Regions from separate parts of the Homo sapiens genome. Here region 2 is linked to region 1. The links come from fine-mapping of genetic effects on gene expression. Tissue or cell type: breast. Region 1 holds a variant in brackets; the other region holds the start of a gene. All regions are shown on one strand. Distances are from middle to middle.

Region 1 (10,444 bases):
GCTAAGCTACCTGGGTACGTAAACACGTCCTGCTCTTTCAGGCTCCTGGGCCTTTGCACGCTTGGAACACCCTTTCTCCTTTTTTGCACCTGGCCGACACCTAATGCTCAGTTAGACCTCAGCTCATTTCACCTGCCTGCCTGTGCTGGGTACCGAGAGGGAGCAGTGAGCAGGCACACCAGTCACTGGCTACCAGGAGCCCATCTGTAGTCGGGGGAGCGACAGGGAGCAATCAGTCCCACAGACACGTAAACTCGCACTGAGGGAGCAGCAGCTGAGGGCAGACCCGAAACCACAGTGGGTTTAGCCAGGCCAGGCATGGGGCTGGTAGGAGGGTGGCGTGGCTGGAGGGTGAGTGTTAGGGTGGCATGGCTGGAGGGTGAGTGTGTTAGGGCAGCGTGGCTGGAGGGTGTTAGGAGGGTGGTGTGGCTGGAGGGTGAGTGTTAGGAGGGTGGCGTGGCTGGAGGGTGAGTGTTAGGAGGGTGGCGTGGCTGGAAGGTGTGTTAGGGTGGCGTGGCTGGAGGGTGAGTGTTAGGAGGGTGGTGTGGCTGGCAGGCGAGTGTCAGGAGGGTGGCATAGCTGGCAGATGAGAGTGCTGGGGGAACTCCAAAGAGCCCTCACCATTGCCAGCAGCCTTGGTGCTTCCATGGCCCAGCTTGCCTCCCTCCACTTAGGCTGCTGAGCTCTTGGCCAGCAGCTGCGTAGCCCGTGTGCCTGAGCGGCGAGTTTGACACCTCTCCTTGCCCATGTCCCTGCCACCCTCAGACATAAGTGAAAGGAAGAATAGAGGAGTCATGGGGTGCCTGGTGGGGAAGGTGTGCTGTGAGAGCAGGTGGCAGCCCGGGTCCACAGGAGGCCCTTGGCTGGTGACAAGCCCAGTGGTTTAGGCGCAGGTGCACCAGCGCAGCTCCCTCCAGGCAGGGTTACCCAAACTGAGCTGTACAGGTTCTGTGGTACTCATGAAACAGGTCTGGCTGGCAGCACTGGAACCGCCTAGAACTGTAAAATGTCTTGGACGCATGCTCCCCGCTTTCCCCTTCCATGGCTGTAGACAAAACCATGCGTGTTTCTTTGGTGGTCAAGCCCCCTGGGGAGCTCAGGCTGTGGTGTGGGTGGGAGTTGGTGCCTCTGGCAGCAGCGGTGGGGAAAGTGGCTGTGTGGACAGGAGGGCTGAGGATGGAGCTGGGGTGACATCTGTGGGGCAGTGCGGCAGTGCCGATGTGGCCTTCTGCGGGGCCCAGTGGGGGAGGGCAGGGGGAGAGCAGGCTGCACAGGGAGCCGACTGCATTAGGAGACGTGGAGGGGGCCTTCTCTCCAAGTCCTGTCCTGCTACCAGGCAGCATCCATGGGGCCATCAGCACAGCTCACCAGCCCCCAAGGTGGGAAACCTTCCACCCACAGCCATGGTGCCCCCCACAATGAGTTCCCGGCCCCAGCCCCTTCACACCACCCACGCCCTCTAGAACCACTGTTTTCAGGTGTTTGGGGGCTGTCTTAGTCAGTTTGGGTTGTTATTTTAAAAGTGCCACAGACAGGCCGGGCACGGTGGCTCATGCCTGTAATCCCAGCACTTTCGGAGGCCAAGGCGGGTGGATCACCTGAGGTCAGGAGTTCAAGACCAGCCTGGCTAATATGGTGAAACTCCGCCTCTACTAAAAATACAAAAAATTAGCCGGGCGTGGTGGTGGGTACCTGTAATCCCGGCTAGTCGGGAGCCTGAGGCAGGAGAATCGCTTGAACCTGGGAGGTGGAGGTTGCAGTGAGCCGAGATCGCGTCATTGCACTCCAGCCTGAGTGACCGAGGGAGATTCTATCTCAAAAAATTAAAAAATAAAAGTGCCACAGTCTGGGCGGCTTGCACAGTAGGCATGCACTGTCTCACAGTTCTGGAGGCTGGAATGTCCAGGAACAAGGCCTGGCTGGGTTCAGTTTCTGCTGAGGCCTCTCTTCCTGGCTTGTGGACAGCCACTTTCTTGCTGTGTCCTCACATGACCTTTCCTTTGAGTGCTAATTCTTTCACGTCTCTTCTTTCTTCTTTCTTTTTAAATTTTTTTATATTTTTAGAGGCAAGGTCTCACTCGGTCATCCAGGTTGGAATGCAGTGGTGTGATCACAGTTCACTGTAAACTCAAACTCCTGGGCTCAAGGAATCTTCCTGCCTCATCCTTCCATCGTGCAGGGATTACAGGGGTGAGCCACCACACCTATCTCTTCTTATAAGGGCACTAATCCCATTCACAAGGGCCCCACCCTCATGACTTAATCACCTCCAAGAGGCCCTGTTCTTAATACCATCACCTTGGGCATTTGGGCTTCAACATATACATTTAGCCTGGACACAGACATTCAGTCCACAGCAGGGTCTTTACCTCAAACCGTACCTGGGTCTTCTCTCTTCAAACCTGGGTTTTCCCCACTGCCACCTGTTGTGCCCCATCTCGGGTGTGGCTTCCTGCACTGGAGGTCTGTGCCCTCCCATCCTCACCTCTCCCCAAACTGAGGCCAGGCCTCCTGCCCCTGGGCCTTGGCCCTTGCTGTTCCCTCAGTGCCGCAGTCTAGCCTGCCTGTGTTCTGCCTTGGGACCAAGGGACCACCAGGCCCCACATCCCTCTAGAAGGTTCTGTAACAGGACCTCTGTGTCTGTTTCCACAGGAGCCTTCTGATGGAGCGTGATGCCTTGAAGCCCAACTCGCCCCTGACCGAGCGGCTCATCCGCAAGGCAGCTACCGTCCACCTCATGCAGTGAGCCAGCCTGGCCGCCTCCACCCTGCAGAACCTCAGTGGTGGCGTCACTGCGTCCAGTCAGCTGCTCCACCGGGTTAGGGTCAGGAGACGGCCAGAGCCTGTTTGTTAGGGCTGTTAGAGGGTGATCTTCAGTTTTACAGGAAGTGGGTCACGGGTTAATTTTAAATGTGATTCCGAATCTCCTTTCAGTCCTCGAGAAGGGCCAATGAGCATTTTTCAGCAGTCACAGCCAGTGTGAGTGCTGCTCTTTCCACCTGCCTTGCAAATTCTGTTTCCCAGGGGAATGTGTCTACTGCCTGGTGGTTCAAAGGTTGGAAGGCAGGGCAGAGGTGGGGGCTGATTCTGCTGGGACAGGTCTTCCAGAGGCAGCCTCCCCCCACTGCCTGTCCCCGTCCCCACCAGGCTGCCCTTGGGATGGACCTTTTCATTCTTTTCTTTATATTCTAGACAGTCTCTGTTGTCTCATTGTGTTGCTGTCCCATTTTTCAGGTGAGGGTACCGGGGTAGGGGAGTGGCCTGCCCAGGGTCACACTATGAGAGGCCCCCACCTGCTGCCTTTGGACGCAGCCCCCTGCTGCTGCATCCACCACCCTTCTTACAGATCAGCGCGCACATGGGGTCCTTCTGCTGTCTCTGGGGCGAGTCTTGGAGCCCCCTGGGGGGCTCTGTTGGTGCTGATTTGGACCCGTTTCTCTTTTTAAACTGCACATCATAACAGGGCTTCATGTCGAGCATGATTTTAATCATAAATGCACTTCTGAGGTGCAAGGATTGAGCTCAGAGCTGCTCTGTTGTGGCAAAACCCAAAGTGCTGTGATGTGTGGCTGTGACAAGCCTGGAGCGGGTCCTGTGAGCGCCGCCTCTGTCTCCTGCTTCCCCACTGAACGCCTGCTGAATGTGCCGCTGACTCAGCTGTGCTGCTTTCAGCCCTCCTGTGAGGGGCGGTCCCAGTGCACAGATGTTTTTCAAGTTCCTCAGTTTGTACTGAAATTAGGGATTCATCAGGGCAGGAAGCAGGCAGGCCTCTCAGAAGGGAGAGGAGGCCTCCAAATCTATTGAGTCCCCACAGTTTGCTCAAGCCCAGGCAAATTTCTGTGATTAAAATGAATTCATCAGTTCCTCCAAGTCTTTGAGCATCTGTGGTGCAGGCCTGGGGCTGGGTCCTGGGGAGATGGCTTCTCCTTGAACTTAAGGTAGGTGGGGCAGGCCAGG[C/T]GCAGTGGCTCACGCCTGTAATCCCACCACTTTGGGAGGCTGAGGTGGGTGGATCCCCTGATGTCAGGAGTTCGAGATCAGCCTGGCCAACATGGTGAAACCCTGTGTCTACTGAAAATACAAAAATTAGCTGAGCATGGTGGCACACGTCTGTAATCCCAGCTACTCGGGAGGCTGAGGCAGGAGAATCACTTGAACCTGGGAGGCAGTGATTGCAGTGAGCCAAGATCGTGCCATTGCACTGCAGTCTGGGCAACAGAGCGAGACTCCCATCTCAAGGGAAAAAAAAAAAAAAGTAGGTGGGGCATCTAGTCAAGAAAATGGGAGGTCGGGCGCAGTGGCTCACGTCTGTAATCCCAGCACTTTGGGAGGCTGAGGCAGGTAGATCACGAGGTCAGGAGATCAAGACCATCCTGGCTAACACGGTGAAACCCCATCTCTATTAAAAATACAAAAAATTAGCCGGGCATGGTGGTGGGCGCCTGTAGTCCCAGCTACTCGGGAGGCTGAGGCAGGAGAATGGCGTGAACCCGGGAGGCAGAGCTTGCAGTGAGCGGAGATCGCGCCACTGCACTCCAGCCTGGGCGACAAAGCAAGACTCCGTCTCAAAAAAAAAAAAAAAGAAAGAAAGAAAAGGGGTAATTATAGTAGTATTTCCAGAGAGGCGCCTTCTCTACCCAAGAACTAGGGACACATCCTAAGGGGAGCCTCCTTCCCCTCTCCTGGTTCCAAGCAAGAAGACATGACTTGGCTGTGCAATTGGGAACCCTGGTCCCTCCTCCAGGAAGCCTTCTACCCGCCAACCCCCACTGCAGGCTGGTGAGGGTGCTGCCTCTGTGCCCCTCAGCCCTTGGCACTTGCCCTTGCTCTTGCACCCCTGCCATGACCTCTCCAGGTCAGGGACAGCATCTGTCCCCAGCATCACCTGGCACATGGCCTGCACTGAGTAGCTGTCAGTGAAAGTTGGTGAATGAAGGCATAAATAAATGAAGTCAAACTCTGTATTAGGCCTTCTTGCATTGCTATGAAGAAATACCTGACGCTAGGTAATTTATAAAGAGGTTTAATTGGCTCACAGTTCTGCAGGCTTTTCAGGAAGTATGGTGCTGGCATCTGCTTCTGGTGCAACCTCAGGAAGCTTAAGATCATGACATAAGGTGATGGGGAGCCAGTATATCACATAGTGAGAGCAGGAGTAAGAGAGAAGGGGAGGTCTTAGACTCTTAAATAACCAGATCTTGTGTGAACTAAGCAAGAACTCATCACCAAGGGGATGGTGCTGAACCATTCATAAGGGATCTGCCCTCACGACCCAATTACTTCCCACCAGGCCCCACTTCCAACATTGGGATCACATTTCAACATGAGATTTTGAGGGGACACACATCCAAACTACAGCAAATCCTATTGGGGGCAGAAATGAATCTGCCATACATAGGCCACACCTACTATGTGCTGACATGATACAGGGAGAGGAGTATCAGGAATGACTGTTGGGGATCCCTCTGCCATTCTCCCATGAGCAGACATCCCCAGGATGAGCTGAGGGGAATGCAATGAGCAGGCCAAACTCTTTCCAAGCTGTTTGACCACACCCACCTACCCCAGCACTCTCAGCCCCTGCCTGGTGCCCTGTGCTGAGCTGGGTGAGGCTGGGGAGACTGGTGAGTGAGGGCTGCCCTGCCCTTTTTGAGCCCCCAGTCTTCTGGTGAAGGAACATAGCAACATGGAGTGATTGGTATGGATGATGCAAAACCAGGGACATGGGACCCAGAAGTGCCCGAGCCAGCCTGGAAGGCCTCTGCCCTGGGCCCCGGGTGGCTGTTTGCTGCACAGCTCTCCCCACAGCCTGCCCCAAATAAACAGCTTATCTTCGTCCCTGAAAATGGTGCTCTCGAGTTCCATCCTTTTCAGAGCGGGTCCTCCCAGACTCCTCTTCCTGCATCCTCCTCCATCCCGCTTAGTGACACTTTGCCGTGGGTGGAGCCCCTCATTTGATCCTCAAGCCCCCGAGGTGGGTATTATACCTCGTTCGCAGGCAAAGGCTCAAGCGAGGTCAGTCTTAAGTTGCTGCCCACTGACCCGTCTACCAGTCCTGTCCTTGCGTCTCCATGGCTCAGGTCAGGGTTATCCTATCTGCTTCCCACCTCTCTCCAACACATGCACTCCCCAAGGCAGGCTCCATCACCGGGCCCCAGCCCCTGGCTCTCTCCTCCAACGCAGCTCCCCAGCCGGCCTGTAAAACCGAGGACAGGCTCCCGCCACGCCCTCGGCGGTCCTCAGGCCTTGGCGGTTGGGGAAGCCCGCCAAGGGCGACGGTTCCCCTCCAGCCCCACAGGCTGTGCAGCTCCGGCAATGAGTCTCCCTCAGGTCTCTGGGTCAGCCGGCGCCCCAGTGCGTGCCTCGGGGGCAGGGATCCCGGCTTTTCACTACTGTTAGTAACAGCTCGCGCGCGCTGCTTCACAGCAGGTGGGTGAGCCTACTTTTAGTCTTCCCATCGACACCCTTAGATGGCAGTTTTAACTTTCTCCCTACACACAAGGAGCTGCTATACATGGTTCCGGCTTGACGCGGATACCTAGTGACACTTGGCGGCCAGGCCGGGCAGACTTCCGGGTGGGTGATCCCTGGCGCTGTGCGGAGCCATTCGCTGCGCTGAAGCAGTGCGCATGCGCACTGGACGCTTCTTACCAGCGTCCTGACTACAATACCCAGGACGCACCCAGCCCGCCGCCTCTCGGAGCCCTTTTCAAACCGACCAATCGGCAACCCGCGTCTCCCGGCGCCGCGTTTAAATCCGTGCCGGAGGCGCGTCCTGCATCGTCTGCCGCTTTGGGTAAGGTGGGGTCAGGGTCGGGGGCGAGGCTTGCCCGGTGGGCCCGGTGCGGCGCGGTGCCCGCCGTTTTCGGGACGGGGAGGGGCCGCGCCCCGCCAGGAGCCGGGCCTGGGCTCGAGCAGGGGTCACTGAGGCCCCTCGCGCCGTGGTCGGGGATGCCGGGAGGTCTAGGGCTGCCCCCCAGGCAAACAGAGCCCCCAACACTCTGGCCCAGAAGCCGAGAATTCCGTTATCTCGTCTGATGGCGTTCGGGCTGACTCCCGGCCTGGCGGCACTCGGGCCCTGGGGTCCCCTGGGATGCGATCATTTCAGAGCGGCCCCCGCGCCGCCTCTCCCAGACCTGGCCGCGGCCTTCAGCTCTCTCTGCCTCTGTGAGCCGAGGGCTGAAGGAAGCCGGAGCCCTGGGCCCTGACACGTACTCACTTTCTGGCCCCGTTCCACCCTGCAGTGACTTCTGACAGCTCTCTCCATGGAAGGAGGCGGCGGCCGCGATGAGCCTTCAGCCTGCCGGGCAGGGGACGTGAACATGGATGACCCTAAGAAGGAAGGCAAGTCCTTGCTGCTGCGGCGCTGTTGTTGTTCAGGATGTTCAGTAGAGATGGAGGGTGATTTAATGTTTCCCTGAGAAATTCTTTCTCAAGTGCTCGACTTGTACTCTGCACCTGTGAAACACATGACATCTGCCTTCGTTTTCTGGTTTTCTTTCACCTCCTCCCCATTTTAAGTTTCATCACAGCCAGGATTCTCATCCGTTTTATTTACCGCAGTGCTCCCATGCCCTGAACAGCACCTAACACTTTGTGGGCTCTCAAATATTTATTGTATTGAATTCGATGTTTTCTTTTTTGTTTGTCGCTGGTTTCTGTTTGCTAAGACTTATTTAGGATCTTTGAGACCATGTTAATGAGTAAGCCTGGCCCCAAACCCCTTTCTTCTTGTGTCTTTGACTGGTTTGGGTATCAAGGTGAGGGTACAGCTTCACAGAATGAGTTACAGGCCACACCCTCTTTTTCTCTCAAAGCGTTTTTATTTATTTATTTATTTATTTATTGACGGAGTCTCGCTCTCTCACCCAGGCTGGAGTGCAAAGGCGTGATCTGTACTCACTGCAACCTCTCTCTCCTGAGTTGAAGGGATTCTCCTGCCTCAGCCTCCCTAGTAACTGGGATTACAGGCACCCGCTGCCACACCTGGCTCATTTTTGTATTTTTAACAGAGACGGGGTTTTGCCATGTTGCCCAGGCTGGTCTCGAACTCCTGAGCTCAGGCAATCTGCCTGCCTCGGCCTCCCAAAGTGCTAGGATTATAGGTGTGAGCCACCTCACCCAGCCTCACAAAGCATTTTGACATCCCTTGGGTAGTTTTCTCACACTACCCAAGGATCCTTTCTTTTTGAGACCAAGTCTCACTCTGTCTCCCAGGCTGGAGTGCAGTGGCATGATCTTGGCTCACTGCAACCTCTGCCTTTCGGGTTCAAGCGATTCTCCTGCCTCAGCCTCCCGAGTAGCTGGGATTACAGGCACCCGCCACCACACCTGGCTGATTTTTGTATTTTTAGTAGAGATGGGGTTTTACCATGTTGGCCAGGCTGGTCTCAAACTCCTGACCTCAGGTGATCCACCTGCCTAGGCCTCCCAAAGTACTGGGATTACAGGTGTGAACCACCGCGCCTGGCCCCAAGCATCCTCAATGCCTCCATTTTGCAGGAACTGTCCTGGAGACTTTACAAATCAATGTTGCATCTTCATATCTAGCAAGGCGCTTGCCTCTGCACCCCTCTCCTCCTTCCTGTCATGTCCTTCCTTTCAAATATGTCCTTTCCACGTGCATACTGCACCCCCTGCTCCTTCTTGAGGCCTTCCCCACTTCCGTTGACCTGACTTCATTTCCTTACTTTTCCCCTGTCCACTACTGGATCATGCGCATCCACATACAGATAATGTTCCCTTGTCTCACTTGTCGCCACGTCTCCTCCGTTGCCTCTCCATTGCTGTGTTTCTCCTTCCAAGCCAAACTTTGAGAGCTTTCTCACTTGTTATGCCATTTTTTTCCGCCTCTCAATCCCTCCCATTCCGGCTTCTGTCCTTACCACTCCATTCAAGCTGCTTTCATCAGTCGTTGACGACTTCCACATTGCTGAATCTCTTTTCACTTTTCTATCGCCAGTCAGCTTTTCAGTAACATTCGTCCTTCTGGAAACTTCCCTTGCTTGGAGTCCAAGACGCTCTTGGTTTTTTCCTCCTGCCTCTCTGGCTGGTGTATCTTTTCTCTGTCGGGGGCTCCCCCTCTGCTGTCTTCTGAGGCTGATTTCCCCAAGACCTGCTCTGGGACCGCTTTGTGCTTTCGCCCTCAGGGCGGTCAGCATTCCAATAGCTGTGCAGCGTATCTGCTCTCTGCGGCACCCACGTTTTGTCTTGAGCGCAGCCTCTCCTCCGAGCTCTGGGCTTGTATATTCACCTGCCTATTTGGCGTCTTCACATGCACGTCTCATCTCAAACTTGGCATACCCCCTCTGCATCTGCATACCCTGTTCTTTTTGTCTTTCTCATCACCCATTTTATTTCTCCATTTCACCCAGCTGTGCAAGCTGAGAACCTCCTACATTCATGCCATCACCAGCTAACGTCTTCTCCACCTTCAGAAGATATCCTGAATCCATCTACAGACTCTCCATCTCCATCCACATGCTGCTGTCTGGGTCTCAGCCACGCTGTCTCACCGGCTTCTACTTCCCGTTGGCTAATATGTGCATTTGTAATGTCAGGGGATATTATCTGCTTCCTTTCGGATACACTTTCTACACAGTAACGTCACCTTTTAAAAACACAAGTTAGATTATAAAGCTCTTTTCTTTTCTTTTTTCTTTTTCTTTTTTTTTTTTGAGACAGAGTCTCACTGTTGGCCAGGCTGGAGTGCAGTGGCGTGATCTCGGCTTACTGCAACCTCCGCCTCTTGGGTTCAAGCAATTCTCCTGCCTCAGCCTCCTGAGTATCTGGGACTACAGGCGCCCGCCACCACGCCCAGCTAATTTTTTTTTTTTTTTTTTTTTTTTTAGTAGAGATGGGGTTTCACTGTGTTAGCCAGGATGGTCTCAATCTCCTGACCTCGTGATCTGCCCGCCTGGGCCTCCGGAAGTGCTGGGATTACAGGCATGAGCCACTGTGCTCAGCCTTTTTTTTCTTTTTGAGATGGAGTCTCGTTCTGTCACCAGGCTGGAGTGCAGTGGCGACATCTTGGCTCACTGCAACCTCCGTCTCCTGGGTTCAAGTGATTCCCCTGCCTCAGCCTCCTGAGTAGCTGGGATTAAAGGCATGAGCCACCGTGCCCAGCTAAGTTTTGTATTTTCAGTAGAGACGGGGTTTCACCATGTTGGTCAGGACGGTCTCGAACTCGACCTCAAGTGATCCGCCTGCCTCAGCCTACCACTGTGCTGGGATTACAGGCATGAGCTACCACGCCAGGCCTAAAATTCTTTTCTTAAAGCCCGGTAATAGTTTCCTATCCCACTTTGGAGAAAATAAAAGCTCCTTGCCATGGCTTGCAAACCCTCTGTGATCTGACCCAACTTGTGTTTTCACCTCTTCCAGCCACTCTGACTTCTGACCCGTTCCTCTCACACACGCTTTGATATTTTCTCAGAGGTGTTCCCAC
Region 2 (10,444 bases), 27 kb before region 1:
GCCTGCAACATCACGCGCGCGGGGCCGTCTGTGGGGCACTCGGTGCGGGCCACGAAGCCCTGCTGGGGCCGCGGGCCTGGCGCGGCGGAGCGCGGGGAGACGCGGGCCGCGGGGGAGGCCGGGCGGGCGGCGCCGGGTCCGAGCAGCCGCAGGCGGAAGGCCCAGGCCAGGCGCCCGGGCGAGCGCGGCAGCCGCACGGACCACGTCAGGGAGAGGCGGCCGCCGCGCGCGGAGAGCTGCAGGTCGACGAGCGCGAGCGCGGGCGCGGCCGGCCAGGGCAGGCGTTGGGCGCTGAGCAGGACGCGCAAGTCGAGGCAGTACCAGCGCCGCCCGGTCCCGCCATGGGGGAAGCAGAGGCTGCCGCGGCCGCTCAGGACAGCGCCGCCCGCCCGCACCGCGCTGGGCCGCAGACTGAGGAGGGCGCGGCCGCCGCGCACCCCGAGGCCCGGGGCGCCCCTGAGGAGGCCACCGGGCGCCCCGGAGACGGCGGCTTGTGCCCCGCGAGGAACCGGCGGCAGCGGGAGGCGGCCGACGCTCAGGCTCAGGCCCACGCCCAGAAGGAGGAGAGCGGGCCCAGGCCTCATGGCGCCGGCCCAGGAGAAGCTGGGAGAGGCCGCGAGGCGCGCCCAACCGCCACCGGGGTCGCGGGGATAGTGAGGGTCTTGGGGACAGTGGGGGTCTCGGGCGTCGAAGGGCGCTGGCAGAGGGGTCCCAGGGACAGAGTCCCAGAGAGCAGCTGGGACCTCGGAGCTTGGGGTCAGTCGGCACTGGGGACTTCTTGGGTACCTCTTCCCTCTCCGTCCCCAAGTGTGTGCAGGCCCAGGGTCAGGATGGCTCAGGAGGGCAGTTCAGCCCCGTGCAGACCACAGAGCTGACCACGGAGAAGGGGCTTCAGCAGGAACCCTTGGGAAAGCCAGTCACAAAATGGGAGATCAGGAGGGAACCGTGAGATCCCTGGGCGCCCAGGAAGGTCTGACTCTCGGTTTCTTACTTTGGGGTCGCTTTGCTCTTTTCTTTCTAGTTGGTTTGGGGGTTTTGTTTTTTGTTTGTTTGTTTGTTTGTTTGTTTTTTGAGACGGAGTCTCTGTCACCCAGGCTGGAGTGCAATGGCTTGACCTCAAGTGATCCACCCACCTCGGCCTCCCAAAGTGCTGGGATTACAGGCATGAGCCACTGTGCCTGGCCTCATTCTTTAACTCTGTCCATTTTTGCTGTATATTTTGGGACTTGATTGATGGATTGAATGATTTTAGAGACAGGGTCTTGCTCTGTTGCCCAGGCTGGAGTGCAATGGTGCAATCATAGCTGACTGTAACCTTGAACTCCTGGGCTCAAGGAATCCTCCTGCCTCAGCCTCCCATACTACAGGTCTACACCACTACACCTGACTGATTTATTTTTTATTTTTGTAGAGATGGTGTCTTGCTGTGTTTCACAGGCTGGTCTCAAACTCGTGGTCTTAATTGGCCCTCCCCTGTATTAGTCCGTTTTCATGCTGCTGATAAAGACATAACCAAGACTGGGAAGAAAAAGAGGTTTAATTGGACTTACAGTTCCATATGGCTGGGGAGGCCTCAGAATCATGGCAGGAGGCAAAAAGCACTTCTTGCATGGCAGTGGCAAGAGAAAATGAGGAAGACGCAAAAGCGGAAACCCCTGATAAAAGCATCAGATCTCCTGAGACTTATTCACTACCACAGAACAATATGGGGGAAACTGCCCCTGTGATTCAGTTATCTCCCACCCGGTCCCTCCCACAACATGTGGGAATTATGGGACTATAAGATGAGATTTGGGTGGGGACACAGAGCCAAACTATATCATTCCACCCCTGCCAAATCTCATCTCCTCACATTTCAAAACCAATCATGCCTTCCCAACAGTCCTCCAAAGTCTTAACTCATTTCACATTAACTCAAAAGTCCACAGTCCAAAGTCCTGTCTGAGACAAAGGAAGTCGCTTATGCTTATGAGCCTGTAAAATCAAAAGCAACTGGCTGGGCGCAGTGGCTCACCCTGTAATCCCAGCACTTCGGGAGGCTGAAGCGGGCAGATCACCTGAGCTTGGGAGTTTGAGACCAGCCTGACCAACATGGAGAAACCCCATCTCTACTAAAAATACAAAATTAGCCGGGTGTGGTGGTGCATGCCTGTAATCCCAGCTACTCGGGAGGCTGAGGCAGGAGAATCGCTTGAACCCGGGAAGCAGAGGTTGCGGTGAGCCAAGATCGTGTCATTGCACTCCAGCCTGGGCAACAGGAACGAAACTCTGTCTCAAAAAACAGAAAAAAAATCAAAAGCAAGTTAGTTATTTCCTAGATACAGTGGGGTACAGACATTGGGTAAAGACAACCATTCCAAATGGGAGAAATTGGCCAAACAAAGGAGTTATAGGGCCCATGCAAGTCTGAAATCCAGTGGGGCAGTCAAATCCTAAAGCTCCAAAATTATCTCCTTTGACTTCATGTCTCAAATCCAGCTCATGCTGATGCAAGAGGTGGGTTCCTATGGTCTTGGGCAGCTCCGCCCCTGTGGCTTTGCAGGGTACAGCCTCCCTCCTGGTTGCCTTCGTGGGCTGGTGTTGAGTGTCTGCAGCTTTTCTAGACTCATGGTGCAAGCTGTTGGTGAATCTACCATTCTAGGGTCTGGAGGATGGTGGCCCTCTTCTCACAGCTCCACTAGGCGGTGCCCCAGTAGGGACTCTGTGTGGGGGCTCTAACCCTACATTTCCCTTCCACACTGCCCTAGCACAGGTTCTCCATGAGAGCCTTCCCCCTACAGTAAACTTCTGCCTGGCATCCAGGTGTTGCCATATATCTTCTGAAATCTAGGCAGAGGTTCCCAAACCTCAATTCTTGACTTCTGTGCAACTGCAGGCTCAACACCACATGGAAGCTGCCAAGGCTTGGGGCTTGCAATCTCTGAAGCCACAGCCCGAGCTCTACATTGGCCTTTTTCAGCCACAGCTGGAGCAGCTGGGACACAGGGCACCAAATCCCTAGGCTGCACACAGCTTGGGGACCCTGGGCCCAGCCCACAAAACCACTTTTTCCTCCTGGGCCTCCAGGCCTGTGATGGGAGGGGCTGCCATGAAGACGTCTGACATGCCCTGGAGACCTTTTCCCCATTGTCTTGGGGATTAACATTTGGCTGCTTGTTATTTATACAAATTTCTGCAGCTGGTTTGAATTCTCCTCAGAAAATGGAATTTTCTATCACATTTTCGGTCTGCAAATTTTTCAAACTTTTATGCTCTGTTTCCCTTTTAAAACCGAATGCTTTTAACAGCATCCAAGTCACTTCTTGAATGCTTTGCTGCTTAGAAATTTCTTCTGCCAGATACCCTAAATCATCTCTTTCAAGTTCAAAGTCCCACAAATCTCTAGGGCAGGGGCAAAATGCTGCCAGTCTCTTTGCTAAAACATAACAAGCATCACCTTTGCTCCAGTTCCTCATCCCCATCTGAGACCACCTCAGCCTGTACCTTATTGTCCATATCACTATCAGCATTTTGGGCAAAGCCATTCAACAAGTATCTGGGAAGTTCCAAAATTTCCCACATACTCCTGTCTTCTGAGCCCTCCAAACTGTTCCAACCTCTGCCTGTTACCCAGTTCCAAAGTTGCTTCCACATTTTCAGGTATATTTTTGGCAACACCCCACTCTAATGGTACCAATTTACTGTATTAGTCCATATTAGTACTCAGCTCAAGTGCAAAATTTAAGGGTGGAGGGGCACCAAAAACTCAATAATCAAGACAAATTCTCTTTTATTGAGGTAAAGTTCACATAAAAGTAACCATTTATGGGAGGCTGAGGTGGGAGGATTGCTGGAGCCAGGAGTTCAAGGCTTCAGTGACTTATCATCCCTATCCCCTCAGTCCCTGGTCACCACCAATCTTCTTTCTGTCTCTATGTTTGCGTATTCTGGACATGCATGTAAATGCACTAATACAAGTGTTACCTTTTGTGTCTGCCTCTTCCTTCAGTATGAATGAACCTTGAAAACGCTGTAGGAAAGGTGTGTCTTCTTTGGAGAACTGTCACCTCAAATTCTTTGCCCACTTTAAATTTGGGCTGTTTGTCATTTCGCTGTTGAGTTGTAAGAATTCTTTTTTTTTGAGACAGAGTCTGGCTCTGTTGCCCAGGTTGGAGTGCAGTGGCACAATCTTGGCTTACTCCAACCTCCACTTCCCGGGTTCAAGCGATTCTCCTGCCTCAGCCACCCAAGTAGTTGGGATTACAGGCATGCACCACCACGCCTGGCTATTTTTGTACTTTTAATAGAGATAAGGTTTCACCATGTTGGCCAGGCTGGTCTTGAACTCCTGACCTCAGGTGATCCACCTGACTCAGCCTCCCAAAGGGCTGGGATTACAGACATGAGCTGCTGTGCCCGGCCAAGATTTCTTTATGTATTCTGGATTCTAGACTCTTACCCAATATATGATTTACAAATGTTTTTTCCCATTGTGTTAATCTTTTCAGTTTCCTGAGTAGTGTCCTTTGATTCAGAAAAGTTTTTAATTTTGACGAAGTCCAACTTATCTATTTTGTTGTTGTTGCTTGTCCTTTTGGTGTTACATCTAAGAATCCATTGCTAAATCCAAGGCCATGAAGATTTACTTCTGTTTTCTTCTAAGAGTTTTATCTTTACAGCTCTCACATAAAACAAATAATACTTCAGTGCAATATTTCAAAAATCAAAACTAATGCAAAAAGTCCATGATGAACAAAATAGCATTTTAAATAAAGGCCAGATCTGCCCGTGCACTTGGTTCTACGCCCTTGATTCGTGCACCCTGGGGCGGGGGCAAATTAAACTAGGGGAGCCCATTGGACTGGGGCTGGTGTGTGGCTGATGGCAGAGTTCAGGCCGGGCCAGACCGGGCCAGTCCAGAGGGAGAAGCCGCTACTGCAGGAGACAGAGCGATTTTTCCGCTGCAAATCCTTGAGAAGGGAGGATGGAGGCGGCGGGACGACCCAGTGAAGCCGGCCCCGAACGCCAAGTGAGTGTGTGCCGTGCGCGCGCGGGTAGCTGCCGACCGCAACGACATAAACTTGAAAGTGACCGCTGTCCCGGAGCTCCCTGCTCCCAAGGGACCCGTCGCGTTGCAGAGTTGTCCGGTCGGGCCTCTGGGGCGGGCCCGGATCCTGGACCAGGGCCAGTCTGTCCGAAACCCACCAGTGAGCGAGCGGGAGAGCGCGGCCGCCCCGCCCCGCCCCTTTCCGCGACCGCCCCGCCCACTCCCAGGAAGGCCCGGGTGCCCAGAGCTCGCGGTGGACTCCGACCCGGCGCAACATGGCCGCAGCCTCGCCTCTGCGCGACTGCCAGGTACACGGAGGCTGCCCCCAACCAGGTCCCCCTCGGGCCCCGGGTCCTGGGGGTGGCCCGGTGCTGGCGGAATAACGGGAGACATGGCCCGGGCGCGGGGCGTGGGGTGAGCCCTGGGCGCACGGGCGCGTCCGCGGCAACGCCTGGAAGGGACCCGAGGCCCTTCTTGTAGAGTCCCCACCGAGGGAAATAAGGGACGCCTGTCAGGGTACTCGGGAGACCCCAAGACCTCCTAAAAAACGTAGCTCACTGGGCATGGCTGGGGACGCAGGGAAGCCCGCAAAGGTAAGGGGCTCCTTGGAACCGGCCCAGGACTGGGAGCCTGAGCCCATTTTACAGATGAGGAAGGTGGAGGTCAGAGGGGCCAGGAGACGTGTGTGTGTTGAAGTTTGAAGGGCTCCTGGAGAGAAGGCACTGCTATTCCCTTCTTGCCGTCTGTAGGCCTGGAAGGATGCGAGGCTCCCGCTCTCCACCACAAGCAACGAAGCCTGCAAGCTGTTCGATGCCACGCTGACCCAGGTATGCCTGCCGAGAGAGGCCGCGGCCCCTTCTGTGGAGGTCTAGGGGAAGGTTTTTTAATTGGGGAAAGCTGTTTTTTTGTTTTGTTTTGTTTTGTTTTGTTTTGTTTTTGAGGCGGAGTCTCGCTCTGTCGCCCAGGCTGGAGTGCAGTGGCGCTATTTCGGCTCACTGCAAGCTTTGCCTCCCGGGTTCACGCCATTCTCGTCCCTCAGCCTCCCGAGTAGCTGGGACTACAGGCGCCCGCCACTGCCCTCGACTAATTTTTTTTGTATTTTTTAGTAGAGACGGGGTTTCACCGTGTTAGCCAGGATGGTCTCGATCTCCTGACCTCGTGATCCGCCCGCCTCGGCCTCCCAAAGTGCTGGGATTACAGGCGTGAGCCACCGCGCCCGGCCATGGGGAAAGCTTTTTAAATTGCGCCATGACCTTAGCAATAGATGGCAGCACATCTGTGCACTTTGTACTGGAGGACGTGGGAGGGTGGGGACATATCTCTGCCCCCCCCCCACAGCGTCCTAAAAGGGCCTCTGCACTCTCCCTTCTTCCCCAGGACTCTGAGTGGTGGGTGGACAGCGGTGGGTGCAGTGGGGATGTTTTTTGAGGATGCTGGCCTCCCCGGGCCTCCCATTGTGGCCTGCTGAGGGTCTGATGCAGGGCTCGGCTGCTTAGGACGTGGGATCCTGTCCTGGGATGAATCTGTGAGTATACTGCCTTCACCTAGGCTGTGCCAAGACCTTCTGCCACATTACCAGTCATTTCTCTACCAATGAAGGGTCCTATAGTTTTAGAACTAGGAGAAGTCTCAGAAGTAAGATCCAACTAGCTTCCTTGACAAGTGGGGAAACTGAGGCTCAGAGTTGAACCTACTTGACTTGAAGGTTGTCCATGAATTACAGGCAGAACCAGGATGAACCTGGGCCTAACTGCACTGATAGAAACCTAAGCTGACCTTGGCGTGGGTGGTGAGGCCCCTGCATACTGACTTCATCCACATAACAGGAGGACTCAGGTAGCTCTTAGAAGCCTACGGGCTGAACAAGAGAGGACTGATGGAATGCTGTGAGCTGCGCCATGGGTGCCTCTCCTGTTCCCAGCCTGCCCTGCCAAGGGACTCTGCTGTGGGCATCTGAGTTGTTTGTTTATTTTGTGTTTGACCTGGCTCACTTGCCCTTCCTGTATCTCGCCGGCCTCTGTAGAGTACTCGATTTGTTTTTTGTTTGAGACGGAGTCTTGCCCTGTCACCCAGGCTGGAGTGCAATGGCGCAGTCTTGACTCACTGCAAACTCTGCCTCTCGGGTTCAAGCGATTGCCCTGCCTCAGCCTCCGAAGTAGCTGGGATTATAGGCACGCACCATCATACCCAGCTGATTTTTTGTATCTTTAGTAGAGACGGGGTTTCACCATGTTGGTCAGGATGGTCACAAACTCCTGACCTTGTGATTCCCCTGCCTTGGCCTCTCAAAGTGCTGGGATTACAGGCGTGAGCCACTGTGCCCGGCCCCTAGTACTCAGTTTGTTACACACCACATCCCCAATCAGTGGCAGCTCATCCTCCCAGCCTGGGTATATTTTGTCCCGTGTATTGGTGTCTCTGTGCTGTCCTGTGTTAGAACTTGGCTTCTTTAAATCTCTGTGCCAACCCTCCTGTATCTTGTCAAAATGCTTGCGTAGCTTATAGTCTCAGCTATTTGGGAGGCTGAGGCAGGGGGATTGCTTGAGCCTGGGCGGTTGAGACTGAAGTGAGCTGTGATTGTGCCACTGTACTCCATCCTGGGCAACAGAGCAAACCCTGTCTTAAAAAAAAAATACACGTACTAATTCTGTGTAGATGTAGGTTAGACAGCTGAAAGGGCATATTTTAAAATCTAATGTGTGATTATAGGTCTAGGACTTTTTTTAAAACAGGCATTTGAGTAAAGGACCAGGTACAAATACAGCAAATTGTTAAAAATGATGATGCGCTGGGCGCGGTGACTCACGCCTGTAATCCCAGCACTTTGGGAGGCTGAGGCAGGTGGATCATCTGAGGTCAGGAGTTCAACACCAGCCTGGCCAACATGGTGAAACCCTGTCTCTACTAAAAATATAAAAAAATTAGCCGGGCATGGTGGCATGGGCCTGTAATCCCAGCTACTCGGGAGGCTGAGGCAGAGGAATTCTTGAACCAGGGAGGTGGAGGTTGTAGTGAGCTGAGATAGTGCCACTGCCTTCCAGCCTGGGTGACAGGGCAAGACTCCATCTCAAAAAAGAAAAAAAAAAAATTAGCCGGGCGCAGTGGTGCACACCTGTAATCCCAGCTACTAAGGAGGGATTCTCCTACCAAGGCAGGAGAATTGCTTGAAACCTGGAGGCAGAGGTTGCAGTGAGCCAAGATCGTGCCATTGCACTCCAGCCTGGGTGACAGGGCAAGATTCTGTCTCAATTAAAAAAAAAATGATAAAATGAGCTTTGGGTAAGTTTTATCTTTCAGCTTTTGTGTCTTTCTAACTCTCTAAAATAAATGTTTTCTGTGAATATTTTTAAAACGAATGAATAAGAAGCAGGAATATTCCTATCGTGACCAACTTCAGGGCTCCTCTTAGGGCAGAAGAAGCCGATGTGGAGCAGGTCACCTGTCAGGAGGAACCTGCCTTTTCTTTCTTTTCTTTTTTCTTTTTTTTCTTTTTTGAGACAGAGTCTCACTCTGTCGCCCAGGCTGGAGTGCAGTGGCGCCTGGGTTCACGCCATTCTCCTGCCTCAGCCTCCCGAGTAGCTGGGATTACAGGCGCCCACCACCACACCCGGCTGATTTTTTGTATCTTTAGTAGAGACGGGGGTTTCACCGTGTTAGCCAGGATGGTCTCGATCTCCTGACCTCATGATCCGCCCACCTCGGCCTCCCAAAGTGCTGGGCTTACAGGCATGAGCCACCACACCTGGCCTTTTTTTTTCCTTTTCTCTGTCACCCAGGCTGGGGTGCAGTGGCACGATCTCAGCTCACTGCAACCTCTACCTCCCAGGTTCAGGCGATTCTCCTGTCTCAGCCACCCAAGTCTCAGCCGCCCAAGTTGCTAGGACTACAGACATGTGCCACCACGCCTGACTAATTTTTGTATTATTTGTAGAGACAGAGTTTTGCCATGTTGGCCAGGCTGGTCTCAAACTCCTGCCCTCAAGTGATCCACCCGCCTCAGTCTTCCAAAGTACTGGGATTACAGGCGTGAGCCATCGCGCCCAGCCAGAACCTGCCTTTTGATGTTTCTTTTTTGGAAATGCAGCATCCCTAGCCCTAGAAAGTGTGCCTTGGGTGATGTGTATTTCATTTCTTCGTATGAAGAAAGTTATCAGCCAGGTTATGCCTTCTTTGGGTTAGAGTCCAGAAAATACTCAGTGTTCTACAAAGAAAAACAAATCTGGATTTATTTTTATTTTTTGTTTTTTGAGACAGTCTCTCTCTGCCATCCAGGCTGGAGTGCAGTGGCACAATCTTGGCTCATTGCAACCTCAGCCCCCGGGTTCAAGTGATTCTCATGCCTCTGCCTACCAAGTGGCTGGGACTACAGGCATGCACCACCACGCCCCACTAATTTTTCTATTTTTAGTAGAGATGGGGTTTTACCGTGTTGGTCAGGCTGGTCTCGAACTCCTGACCTCAGATGTTCTGCCCGCCTCGGCCTCCCAAAGTGTAAACCTGGATTTAGAGCCACCTTTGTTAGAATGATCCAAGGGCTCCGTGAGGACTTGTTTTGCTTTTCCCATTTCAGTATGTAAAATGGACCAATGACAAGAGTCTCGGTGGCATCGAGGGCTGCCTGTCAAAGCTCAAAGCAGCAGATCCAACCTTTGGTGAGTAACGCCTTCCCTGGGTGGAGGAGCCCCGCTTCACACATCCAGCCCCTCTCTTTCCTTTACCACAGGGACACAGTTGGGATGGGGAAGGCAGGTTGGGTGGCAGCAACCAGGGTGGCATTTGCACAGAGGGAGAGAAGATGACAGCTGCCTTTGTGTCTGGAAAAACAGTCACTCCCATAAAGATGCCAGGTTCTATCAGAAGGCATTTTTCTCATCTTTTCTTTAATTACCATCAATTCGGGAATGAAGATGCTGATCTCATTTCTCAGATGAGGAAACTGAGGGTTGGCAAGAGTAAGACTGTACTTAAAGCCACCCAGCTGGTGGTTGACCCCTGGGATTAGATAAAGCTTCCTGAATCCAAGGCCCAGACCCCTGGAACATGAGAGGTGGCTGCTGCAGCCTCCGTCAGGGGACCAGTGAGGCCTCATCCAGAGTGGCCAGGGTGAGGTGGTGACAGAGGCTGGCATCCAGGCAAGCCATGTGTACAGCGGGCATGGGGAAGCCAGCACAGTGCATTGCAGGTGGGTGGTCCCGTGGTGCGGCAAGGTTCCGGGCCTGGGAGAAGGTCTGATGAGGGGACAGGGCTCTTGTCAGTGCGGCAGGGACACCCTTCTCACCCTGCTGCAGCCTAGTCAGACTTAAGGCAGGGGACTTGTACTGCCCTGGAGAAGACAAACAAGGAAATAACTGGGGGAGAACGGGGGAGCCAAACCCAGTCATGGGGAGCCAGGAGCCAGGGGTGGGCTCGGACTCTCTG

Direction of the effects. Alleles are on the strand shown, and positions count from the first base shown. SD is a standard deviation of normalised expression in the study named.
For the expression in breast of the gene that starts at base 5,270 in region 2, C is the low allele of the variant in region 1 and T is the other (moderate effect, 0.61 SD a copy in GTEx).

Evidence for each region. PIP is the estimated chance that this variant, and not a neighbour inherited with it, causes the effect.
Region 2: TTC38 starts here. The variant in region 1 is fine-mapped to the expression of TTC38 in breast (GTEx, PIP above 0.99).

What each region holds. Positions count from the first base shown.
Region 1 is chr22:46,290,139-46,300,582 of GRCh38, forward strand. TTC38 (tetratricopeptide repeat domain 38) reads left to right here. Exons shown (of 14, transcript NM_017931.4): 14 at 2,653-3,870. The coding sequence ends at 2,746. It overlaps GTSE1 (G2 and S-phase expressed 1), which reads left to right and starts at 6,732. Exons shown (of 12, transcript NM_016426.7): 1 at 6,732-6,793; 2 at 7,242-7,341. The coding sequence starts at 7,263. It overlaps GTSE1-DT (GTSE1 divergent transcript), which reads right to left and starts at 6,522. Exons shown (of 1, transcript NR_024009.1): 1 at 5,005-6,522. RefSeq lists a silencer at 6,790-6,989 and an enhancer at 7,140-7,249. The variant C/T (reference allele first, on the strand shown) is at 3,958.
Region 2 is chr22:46,262,739-46,273,182 of GRCh38, forward strand. It overlaps TTC38 (tetratricopeptide repeat domain 38), which reads left to right and starts at 5,270. Exons shown (of 14, transcript NM_017931.4): 1 at 5,270-5,334; 2 at 5,776-5,853; 3 at 9,597-9,678. The coding sequence starts at 5,302. PKDREJ (polycystin family receptor for egg jelly) reads right to left here and starts at 605. Exons shown (of 1, transcript NM_006071.2): 1 at 1-605. The coding sequence starts at 584. RefSeq lists silencers at 5,167-5,326, 5,337-5,546.